4 separate regions of the Homo sapiens genome follow, and regions 1, 2 and 3 are each linked to region 4. The links come from fine-mapping of genetic effects on gene expression. A gene starts in region 4. Each other region holds a variant in brackets. All regions are shown on one strand. Distances are between the middles of the regions.

The links.
Region 1: its variant is fine-mapped to the expression of DTNB in whole blood (TOPMed, PIP above 0.99).
Region 2: its variant is fine-mapped to the expression of DTNB in whole blood (TOPMed, PIP above 0.99).
Region 3: its variant is fine-mapped to the expression of DTNB in whole blood (INTERVAL, PIP 0.92).

Annotation. Positions count from the first base shown.
Region 1 is chr2:25,635,264-25,637,951 of GRCh38, forward strand. All of the region lies in intron 3 of DTNB (dystrobrevin beta), which reads right to left. Among named protein-coding and RNA genes, the nearest start is that of DTNB, 37 kb to the right of the region's middle. The variant G/A (reference allele first, on the strand shown) is at 1,651.
Region 2 is chr2:25,773,698-25,776,385 of GRCh38, forward strand. All of the region lies in intron 5 of ASXL2 (ASXL transcriptional regulator 2), which reads right to left. Among named protein-coding and RNA genes, the nearest start is that of DTNB, 100 kb to the left of the region's middle. The variant C/T (reference allele first, on the strand shown) is at 1,584.
Region 3 is chr2:25,647,121-25,649,808 of GRCh38, forward strand. All of the region lies in intron 2 of DTNB (dystrobrevin beta), which reads right to left. Among named protein-coding and RNA genes, the nearest start is that of DTNB, 25 kb to the right of the region's middle. The variant T/C (reference allele first, on the strand shown) is at 1,248.
Region 4 is chr2:25,672,081-25,674,768 of GRCh38, forward strand. It overlaps DTNB (dystrobrevin beta), which reads right to left and starts at 1,497. Exons shown (of 21, transcript NM_021907.5): 1 at 1,306-1,497. RefSeq lists silencers at 946-1,875, 1,240-1,534.

The sequences.
Region 1 (2,688 bases), 37 kb before region 4:
CTACTAAAAATACAAAAGTTAGCTGGGTATGGTGGCGGGCGCCTGTAGTTCCAGCTACTGGGGAAGCTGGGGCAGGAGAATCAAACCTAGGAGGCGGAGGTTGCAGTGAGCCAAGATTGCGCCACTGCACTCCAGCCTGAGCGATAGAGCGACTCTGATTCAAAACATAAATAAATAAAAATTTAAAAAATAAAAAACATCCAATGAAGGATGTGCAACATCTCTACAAAGAAATTAAAGACCTAAATAGTTCTAGGGATGACCATATACCACGTTCACAGGAGGAAATCTCAACATTGGCAATATGTCAATTCTCCCCAACTTGATTTACAGATTCAACAGAATCCCAATCAAAATCTCTGCAGGACTGTACAGTAAAAGAGGAATTTTACTGTGTGTAAATTATACTTGAAAAAAGAAATGAATAAAAAAAACACAGGAGAGTTGTTTTGTTGGTTTTAGTAGAAATTGGCAAGCAGATTCTAAAGTTTATATGAAAATGAATGTTAAAAAGACAAGACTGTCCCAGAGAATCTTAAAAAGAAAAGCCGAGCAAAGTAGGAAGACTTGCCTTGCCTGACATCTAGATTTACTAAATTCTAATAGTGGTTACTGCTACAAGAAAGTGCAGTATTAGAACAGTCTGGTATTGGTAGAAGGATAGACAAACAGACCAGGGAACACAAGAGGGTCAAAAAGCAGACCTTCTCATATATGGACACTGCCATGAACATTCTTGTACAGATTCATGAATATGTTCATATTCAATGAATGAATATGGGAAGACTCTTTAGCAGTAAAGAAAATTGTTTATTTTCTTCTGTTTATTGACTGTTTAGTGACCCTTTCAATAAAAAGTGAAGGAACAACTGAAAATACATATGGAAAAACTTGTACAGATTCATGAATATATTCATATTCAATGAATAAGCATGAGAAGACTCTTCAGCATTGAAGAAAATTGTTTATTTTCTTCTGTTTATTGACCCTTTCAACAAAAAGTAAAGGAACAACTGAACATACATATGGAAAAACTTGAAAACTGACTACTACTTATCCTGTACAGTCTCAAAATTTTTTTCAGATCAACTCTAGAATCCTACGTGAAAGGTAACAAAATAAAACCTTTAGAACAATGCATCTTTTACTTTATATTACTAATGCCACTAGCCTAGTCAGGCTCTCAACACTCCACACGTAGACTACTGTTTCCCAAGAATAATTATGGCAGGAATTATAAAAACGAGAGTTGTTCTAAGGCAGTGGTTTTCGAACTTTTTGACCACGAGCACAGAAATATATTTAAATCATCACATACACACATATACACACAAACACATACATATATCTAGATATATAAATATATTTAAATCATCACAGAAATATATTTAAATCATCATGTACACACACAAACACATAGATACATCCAGATATCAGAACACATTTAGCCTTACCACATAAGTTGCATTCTAATATTTTATTTTTCTTCCTTTTTTTTCCTATTATATGTTTTTAATTCTGGCTACAGCCCATCAAAATGATTTCATGAAGCATTAATGGGTAACAACTCACAATGTAAAAAATAATGCTTTGAGAAACCACTGGAGAAAGAAACATCACTTCGATCTAGGATGGCATGATAAACTCTTC[G/A]GAGAGAATTTTAAGTTAAGATTTGTGAGTAAGACTTAAAGTAGAGTAGAATTTATCAGCTGTAACGTGATTTGCCCAAGATTATTTGTTTATAATAAATGGCAAAACCAGGTCTAACAGAGCCCTCAGAAATAATAGCACACATCTACAACCATCTGATCTTTGACAAACCTGACGAAAACAAGAAATGGGGAAAGGATTCCCTATTTAATAAATGGTACTGGGAAAACTGGTTAGCCATATGTCAAAAGCTGAAACTGGATCCCTTCCTTACACCTTATACAAAAATTAATTCAAGATGGATTAAAGACTTAAATGTTAGACCTAAAACCATAAAAACCCTAGAAGAAAACCTAGGCAATACCATTCAGGACACAGGCATGGGCAAGAACTTCATGTCTAAAACACCAAAAGCAATGGCAACAAAATCCAAAATTGACAAATGGGATCTAATTAAACTAAAGAGCTTCTGCACAGCAAAAGAAGCTACCATCAGAGTGAACAGGCAATCTACGGAATGGGAGAAAATTTTTGCCACCTACCCATCTGACAAAGGGCTAATATCCAGAATCTACAAAGAACTTAAACAAATTTACAAGAAAAAATCAAACAACCCCATCAAAAAGTGGGCGAAGGATATGAACAGACACTTCTCAAAAGAAAACATTTATGCAGCCAACAGACACATGAAAAAATGCTCATCATCACTGGCCATGAGAGAAATGCAAATCAAAACCACAATGAGATACCATCTCATGCCAGTTAGAATGGCAATCATTAAAAAGTCAGGAAACAACAGGTGCTGGAGAGGATGTGGAGAAATAGGAACACTTTTACGCTGCTGGTGGGACTGTAAACTAGTTCAACCATTGTGGAAGACAGTGTGGCGATTCCTCAAGGATCTAGAACTAGAAATACCATTTGACCCAGCAATCCCATTACTGGGTATATACCCAAAGGATTATAAATCAGGCTGCTATAAAGACACATGCACACGTATGTTTATTGCAGCACTATTCACAACAGCAAAGACTTGGA
Region 2 (2,688 bases), 100 kb after region 4:
ATACTTTGATACTGACCAATTTTTAAAAAATAGCTTAAGATAAAATTTATACTATGCAGCTGGGCACGGCGGCTCACACCTATAATCCCAAAGGGAGCCGAGGCAGGTGGAACACTTGAGGTTAGGAGTTCAAGACCAGCCTGGCCAACATGGTGAAACCCCGCCTCTACTAAAATACAAAAATTAGCTGGGTGTGGTGGCAGACACCTGTAGTCACAGCTACTCAGGAGGCTGAGGCAGGAGAATCACTTGAACCTGGGAGGCGGAGGTTGCAGTAAGCTGAGATCACGCCACTGTACTCTAGCCTGGGCAACACAGTGAGACTCCATCACAGAAGAAAAAATAATATATATATATATAATTCATATACTATACATCTTGCCTAAAGTATAAAATTTGAGGCCTACTTGAGGGTGGAGGTGGAAGGAGGGTGAGGATAAAAAAACTACCTATTAGGTACTATGCTTATTTCCTGGGTGACAAAGTATTCTGTACACCAAGCCCCCATGACATATAATTTACTTATACAAACAACCTGCACATGTACCCCGAACCTAAAACAAAAGTTAAAAAAATTAAAATATTTAAACATATGTACACAGATCACAAGTGGGTAGCACACTGAAGCTTTTTATATTTAAATTTTTTAAAAAAGGATATTTTAAGCCCACAGCTATCTTTTTGTGATCCCAGCCGGTCACAATCTTCAAGGATGAGCACTACATTGACATCTAATAGCAGAGGTTACTTTTACCTCTTTTATACTTTATATAAATATTGTGCAGCAGGAACTCTTTTGTACATGTCTTTTTACATTCTGTAGGCTGTTTTGAATTTATATGTAGTTTTCCATGTTGTGAATCATTTAATAGCATTGAATTCTGTTGTGAAAATATCACACAATTATTCCACTGCTTATGTACATGTGAGTGTTTTTCATCTGGGAATATTAGGAATAGTACTAGTATCTAAATTCTAGAAAATGCATTGGTAACACATAAAGATTTGGGGGTATATATGTAGTAGCGGAATTGTGTTTTATGTTTACATCTCTTCAGTTTTAGGTGATACTGCCAGTTTTCCAAAATGTTTGTACAAAATTTTGAAGCCACTAGCAGTGTATAAGTTTTCTACATCCTTGCCAACACTTGGTATTCTCTGTCATTTTCATTTCAATCTCCTGGTTGCTGTGTTTATATCAGGCTTTCTCAGATTGCTAAGAAAGCTGAACACTTGTTAACATTTTTTTAGTCACTGAATAACCTCTATTTTGAAGACTGTTATTTCATTTTGCCTGTCTTCTCGTGGTTTTATTAATAGCTGTCTTTTTCTTGTTGACTTGTGGTAGTTTTTTATGTATGCTAGATAGATGTCCTTTTTTAGTTAGTCTTCTGATATGGTTTGGCTCTGTGTCCCCACTCAAATCTCATCTTTTTTTTGTTTTTTTGAGATGGAGTTTCGCTCTTGTCACCCAGACTGGAGTGCAATGGCACAATCTCAGCTCACTGCAACCTCTGCTTCTCAGGTTCAAGTGATTCTCCTGCCTCAGCCTCCTGAGTAGCTAGGATTACAGGTGCCCACCA[C/T]CACGCCCAGCTAATTTTTGTATTTTTAGTAGAGACGGGGTTTCACCATGTTGGCCAGGCTGGTCTCAAACTCCTGACCTCAGGTGATCCACCCACCTCAGCCTCCCAAAGTGCTGGGATTACAGGCACGAGCCACTTCGCTGGGCCCCAAATCTCATCTTGAATTGTAATCCCCACGTGTCAGCGGAGTGACCTGTAATCACCCGCTTGTTGAAGTAGGAAGGTGACTGGATCATGGGGGCAGCTTCCCCCACGTTGTTCTCGTGATAGTGAGTTCTCATGAGATCTGATGGTTTTTAAAGGCAGTTTTCCCTGCTCTTTCTCGCTTCTCTCTCCTGCCACCATGTGAAGTTGGTTGCTTCCCCTTCGCCTTCTGCCATGATTGTTGTTTCCTGAGGCCTCCCCAGCCATGTGGAACTAACTATGAGTCAACTAAACCTTTTTCCTTTATAAATTACCCAGTCTCAGGTATTTATAGCAGTGTGAAAACAACCTAATACACCCTCTCTCAGTCTCCTCCTCTTTCTGTCTGAGAAATACTTAAAATATATTTAAATAATCTCATTTGTTATTTCCCCACTATATTAAATATCTTTTGTTTTATTTAAGGAATCATTCTCTATCTTAAGACCACAAAGATGTTATTCTCTGTTTTCTTTTAAAAGCATCAGGATTTAGGTTTAAACTTTGGTTTTGCAATCCATTCAGAGTCAATTTGTTGTGTGACTAGTGATTTAATTTTCCCTAGTAAGCTAACAAAATTAAATTTATTTTGAAAATGTTGGGGAAAAAAGCATAAAATTCAATGGCTTTCAGTATATTCACCAAGTTGTACAATCATCACCCCTCAAAAAACACCATACATGTTAACCGTTACTCATCTTTTACCCCATCTATGTCCGTGGTCCTAGGTAACCAGTAATCTACTTTTTGTCTCTATAAATTTGCCTCTTAGGGATATTTCATATAATGAAATCATACATTAGTGCTCGTTTGTGAATGACTTTTTCAACAAAGTGCTTACTTTTGAAGGCTCATCCATGTTTCAATATGTATAAATACTTTATTCTTTATCGTAAAATAATATTCCATTGCATGCTTATGT
Region 3 (2,688 bases), 25 kb before region 4:
GCATTAGCTCTATCAATATGCTACAAAATAGACTTCAAAGCATCAAAAGCATTACTAGAAAAAGAGGGTAACTACACAATGACAAAGGATTCACTTTCCTAGATAGACATAACATTTTAAAGGTACATGCATCCAAGAATTAAAGTTCTAAAAGCTAACAGAAGTACAGGGAAAAAATTAATACTCTTGATCAAAGCAGAAATATTTAACATCTTTCAGTGATTAAGATCAAGCAATCAAATCACCAAGGACAAAAAAGATTTTAATGAAATATGCAAAAAGCTTGATCTAAATAATGCATAAATCATACACATTATTTTCAAGTACTCATGGAATATTTGGAAAAACACAAAACATAAATTAACAAATTCAAAGATTCTAGATCTTCTCACATTTCCTGACCCAAAACCCAATTAAGCTATACAGGTTTTTTTAACTAAAACATTTACTTTCAAATTTAAAAAGATACTCCAGCCAGGTGCGGTGGCCCACGCTTGTAATCCCAGCACTTTGGGAAGCCGAGGTGGGAGGATCGCTTGAGCCTTGGAGTTCAAGACCAGCCTGGGCAACAGAGCAATACCCTGTCTCTATCAATCAGCCAATCAACCAACCAACTGATCAATAAAAAGATATTTTTAAGTAATTAATAATAAAAATTAGAGGAAATAGAGAACTGATTATGAAAAATAGTAAATATCAGAACACTTGGGATGCAAAAAAAAAAATCACAGGAAAGTTTATTCTTAAATGCTTACATAAGAAAAAAAAGGCTGAAAACAAATGGCCTTAGTAACCCAACATAAGTTGTTAGAAAAATAACAGAATTGCCTAAATAGGAAGAGGAAAATACACAGCACAAATGAGGCAGAGAACAAAGATACACAAAGAGGACCAATAAAGCCAAAAGTCAGTCCAATAAAATTGGCAAACTTTAGAAAAGACAAAATAAAATCAGAATCTCTGAGCATGGAGGCCTGGTATCAAGCACTTTGTACAATCAACTGGAGAGCTTTCATTTTGGCACCAGAGTTGAGGATTACTCTTCTCACCTGTCACCTTTCACTTTTCTTGGTGATTTTATATCATGTAAGAATCATAAACTACCCATTTATTTCTATGTAATATATTCCATTCTTCTTTTAATAAATATTTATCGAGGCACCATCATGATAAACAGATGTGATACTTATTCTCATAATGCTTAGAGTCTACAAGATAAAATATTAAGCAAAGAAAGAATAAGCTAA[T/C]TTCATCGCTGTGTTCATAACAGAAAATGTAAAAACTACTGTCTAAAAACATAAAGGCTTAAGGATATTATATAAAGTCATAATAGTAAAGGTAACACAAGGTTGAAAAATACAAACTATGTAACAAACCTGCACATGTACCCCCTGAATCTAAAAGTTACAATTATTTTTTTAAAAAGAGCTCCAAAAGGAAATATTCTGAAAACTAAGGTTAAAAAAAAACTATTTAAATTATTAAATTATTATGACTGCTTTTATGCTACAATGGCAGAGTTGAGTAGTGTGACAAAGACCTCATCATACAGCCTGCAAATCCTAAAATATTTACTTTCTGGCTCTTTAAGAAAAAGATGGCTGGCCCCAGCACTATATTAACAGAGTAAAGAGGAAAGACATTCATCTCAAGGGAAGCAGAAAACATCTGATAAAATTCAATATTCAGTTATGACTTAAGAAAATAATGATAATGATTCCTGGCAAATTAGGACATATCAGTTCTTTCACCTTTATCTGGTTAACCTGTACCAATCATCACTCTTAACAGTGAAATATTAGAAATATAGAAAGAATAGAAATATTAGAAATATTCCCATGAAAATCAAAAACAAGACGCTATCCTTCCTACCTTTTTTTTTTTTTTTTTTTTTTTTTTTTTGAGACGGAGTCTCGCTCTGTCGCCCAGGCTGGAGTGCAGTGGCGCGATCTTGGCTCACTGCAAGCTCCGCCTCCCAGGTTCACGCCATTCTCCTGCCTCAGCCTCCCAAGTAGCTGGGACTACAGGTGCCTGCCAGCACGCCCAGCTAATTTTTTTGTATTTTTAGTAGAGACGGGGTTTCACCATGTTAGCCAGGATGGTCTCAATCTCCTGATCTCACGACCCGCCTGCCTTGGCCTCCGAAAGTGCTGGCATTATAGGCGTGAGCCACCACACCTGGCCATCCTTCCTACTTTTCAATATAACCTCTGCGGCCCTAACCAGTACACTAGGTCAAGAAAAAGGTATAAGGATTACAATTACAAAAGGAAGAGTCAAAATTGTCTTTCTTTAAAAATGGTATAGTTACTGGCCAGGCACGGTAGTTCATACCTGTAATCCCAGCGTTTTGGGAGGTAGAGGTGGGAGGATCACTTGAGCCCAGGAGTTCGAGACCAGCCAGCCTGGGCACCATAGTGTGAACCCATCACTACGAAAAACAAGAAAATTAGCCAGGCCTGCTGGCACACGCCTGTAGTCCCAGATACTCAGAAGGCTGAGGCGGGAGGATCAATTGAGCCCTGGAGGTTGAGTCTGCAGTGAGCCGTGATCATACCACTGCACTCCAGCCTGAGTGACAGAGCAAGACACAGTCTCAAAGAAAAAGAAAAAAATTGTATAGTTACCTACCTAAGTAGGAATCTATAACCATTAAGACTAATAAGAGTTGAGAAAGAGTACTGGATT
Region 4 (2,688 bases):
CTTGAAGGCCAACATGAAAGACACATGGGAAAGTGGTAGCATGGCCACAGAAACCAAGACCTCGCCGCCTTAGCCATTGCTTTAACGTGCCCAGACCTCAGAACCGGGGTTGCCTCGCATAGCAAAAAAAAAAAAAAAAAAAAAAAAAAAAAAAGAGGCAGAGAGAGAGAACTTGTGGAACAGGAGAAATCCAGCAACCTTCCCTAACACTAGAGTGACTGACACTGCTCCATGGCAAATGTGGCCAAACCTTGCTTGTCCATTCATTCATGCAATAGACACTTATGGCTCAACCGCTGTGAGCCAGGCAACATTCTGAAGATTTAGCAGTCAATAGTCATGGAGCTTATTTCTAGATGGGAAGGAAGGAAACTTCCTTTCTTTCCAAACGTCTTTTTTCCCCATCTAAGAGCCCCCTTTAAATGTTACCCGTAGGAGCCTTCAAAACTCTCCCAAATTTCTCCCATAGGCTTCTTTTGACCTTTCTGCTTTATCCCCAAAACCACGCAATTTATGGCTCCAATTTCCCAATACTGGGAAAAGACAAAAGAGACCGAAAGTAAATAGGGCATGCGACATAAAATTCGACGCTCCTTTGTATTTCATGTGCATATCTTCACAGCCACACTGTCAGCACCTCAATAACATGACGGTGTTCCATACTATTTCGTGGCCCCAGTGCTGACTACGGGTCTCTACCTACGGTAGCTGGAAGGTCTTCCTAATCCCAAGGCCTGGCACAGGAATTTAAGGGCAAGTATTCGTCACCGGCATCCTCGTCTCGGGACACTTCTTTCCTGTCCAGGGTGACCTCCTGGACAGGTTCGCTATTAGGCGCCTCGGGAAACAGTGATTTGGGGTGATCTGAAATAAATACCCTTCCCTCTGCCAGGGCCTGCCCGCCTCACCTGCCCTCTGCCAGGACCTGCCTCACTCGCCCCTTCAGCACCTAACGCAGAGCCGCCTCCAGGCGAGCCGGGCTCGGGCAGCATCAGCCCGGCGCCGGGCCCCCGCTCGCGCCCGTGCCCCGGCGCGTTCCGGACCCCGATACCCCTCCCGGCCCGGGATCCGCCGCATCCCCTCTGCCTGTCCCTCCGGGGCTAGCCGCGCCGTCCCACCTCGCAGCCGCGCGCGGTGCAGCGGCCCCGGCTCCCCGCGCCCTCCCCGACTCCTGCAGCGCCGCACCCGCAGGCTCCCGGGTCCCCAGTCCCGGCGCAGCGCGAGCTGCCGTCCCGCACCTCGCGGGCGCGAGGCTCCAGCCCAGCTCGTCTCCCCACAGCCCCGGCGGCGGCCGCAGACCCCCACCTTGCTCACTTCCCCGCCGGAGCAGGGGTCGTCGGGAAGGTCTCCTGCGGCCTCACTCCTCCGCACGCTCCGGCCCAGCCCCCTCGGCTGAGGCAGCGGCAGCGCCTACTCAGGCCCCGGAGCCACCCCCGCGGCGAACGTTCGCAGCGCCCGGCTCGCGCCGCTTCTCCGCCCGGCACGCGCAGCGCCCGCCCCCGGCGCGAGGGCGCGAGGGCGGAGGGCGGAGGGCGGATGGGCGGGCGCGCGCCCAGCGCGAGCGCGCGGCCGGGGGCGTGGCTTCCGCGCGCGGGGAGGGGGCGGGAGCGGCCGAGCAACCCCCCTCCACCCCGCCCCCGCGGCCGCGCCCCGCCCACCGGTCGCCGGCGGGTTCCGGGCAGGCGGGAAGCTGGCTCCATCCAGGCTTCTCCCGCTCGCTGGCGTCGGGCCGGGTGTCTTTCCATCCGCAGGTATCCGTCGGCGGGGTGCCCGGCCCGACGTGACTACCCGACAAAGAATGCAAAGAGCCACCCCGTGAATCATTCTCCGCGCCTGGGTCACAAGCCTGTGCCCGAGTGACCCCCGTGAACTCCGCAAGCTAGCCCAGCCGCGGCGTGCGCCCCGCGCTGCACCAGGTGCCTGTGGGCGCACGATCACGGTCACGGCGCCTGGGCTCGAGGCGCCCCAAACTTAGCGGGGAAAACAGCCATGTACACAACCAAGTCCGATGACCCGTGCAGAGCCAAGCCACGGTGCGATGCTGGCACAGAAGCTAGAGACGACTTCTGCTTGGACGCCGCAGAGGGCTAGAGGCGGCATTTATGGTCAACCTCGAAGGAAGAAAAAGAAGTCCTAGGAGGAAAAAGGGAGGACATTAGGGCTGGGAAAACAGTTTGGGCAAAGGAGCCGGGGCAGCCAGGTTTACCATCTCAGCACCAGCTTTTTTGTGTTTTACTGTTATCCATCTTTTATAGAATTCTTTCCAAACTGTGAAATACAGGAGATGGTGCCAAATTAGAATATAGCAAGGACTTTTTGAATGGTTCAAATGGTCATTCTCAACGTTACTTAAGACTCAAAACAGCAACGTCCTTTGGGGGCTATTGGTCAATGATGAAGGCTGTAAGCTCCAGAGCTAAGCGACCCCAGGCCTGCATGCTGGGAGTATGGTTTTCACTGCTTTTTGGCACCTTACGGTAAGGCAGATCGTGCCACCTCCTGCTGCTGCCTGCCTGCCTGCCTGCCTGCCTTTAGAACACCCTCTTCCTCCTCCTCTCCTCTTTTTATTTTTAAACTCCTATGGTGAAGGAAATGCTGATAACCAACTTTGTTAAATGGGAACAAATAGGTTCCTCAAAAGATGAGCATTTTCTGGCCTGCCGCGGAGGCTCACGCCTGTAATCCCAG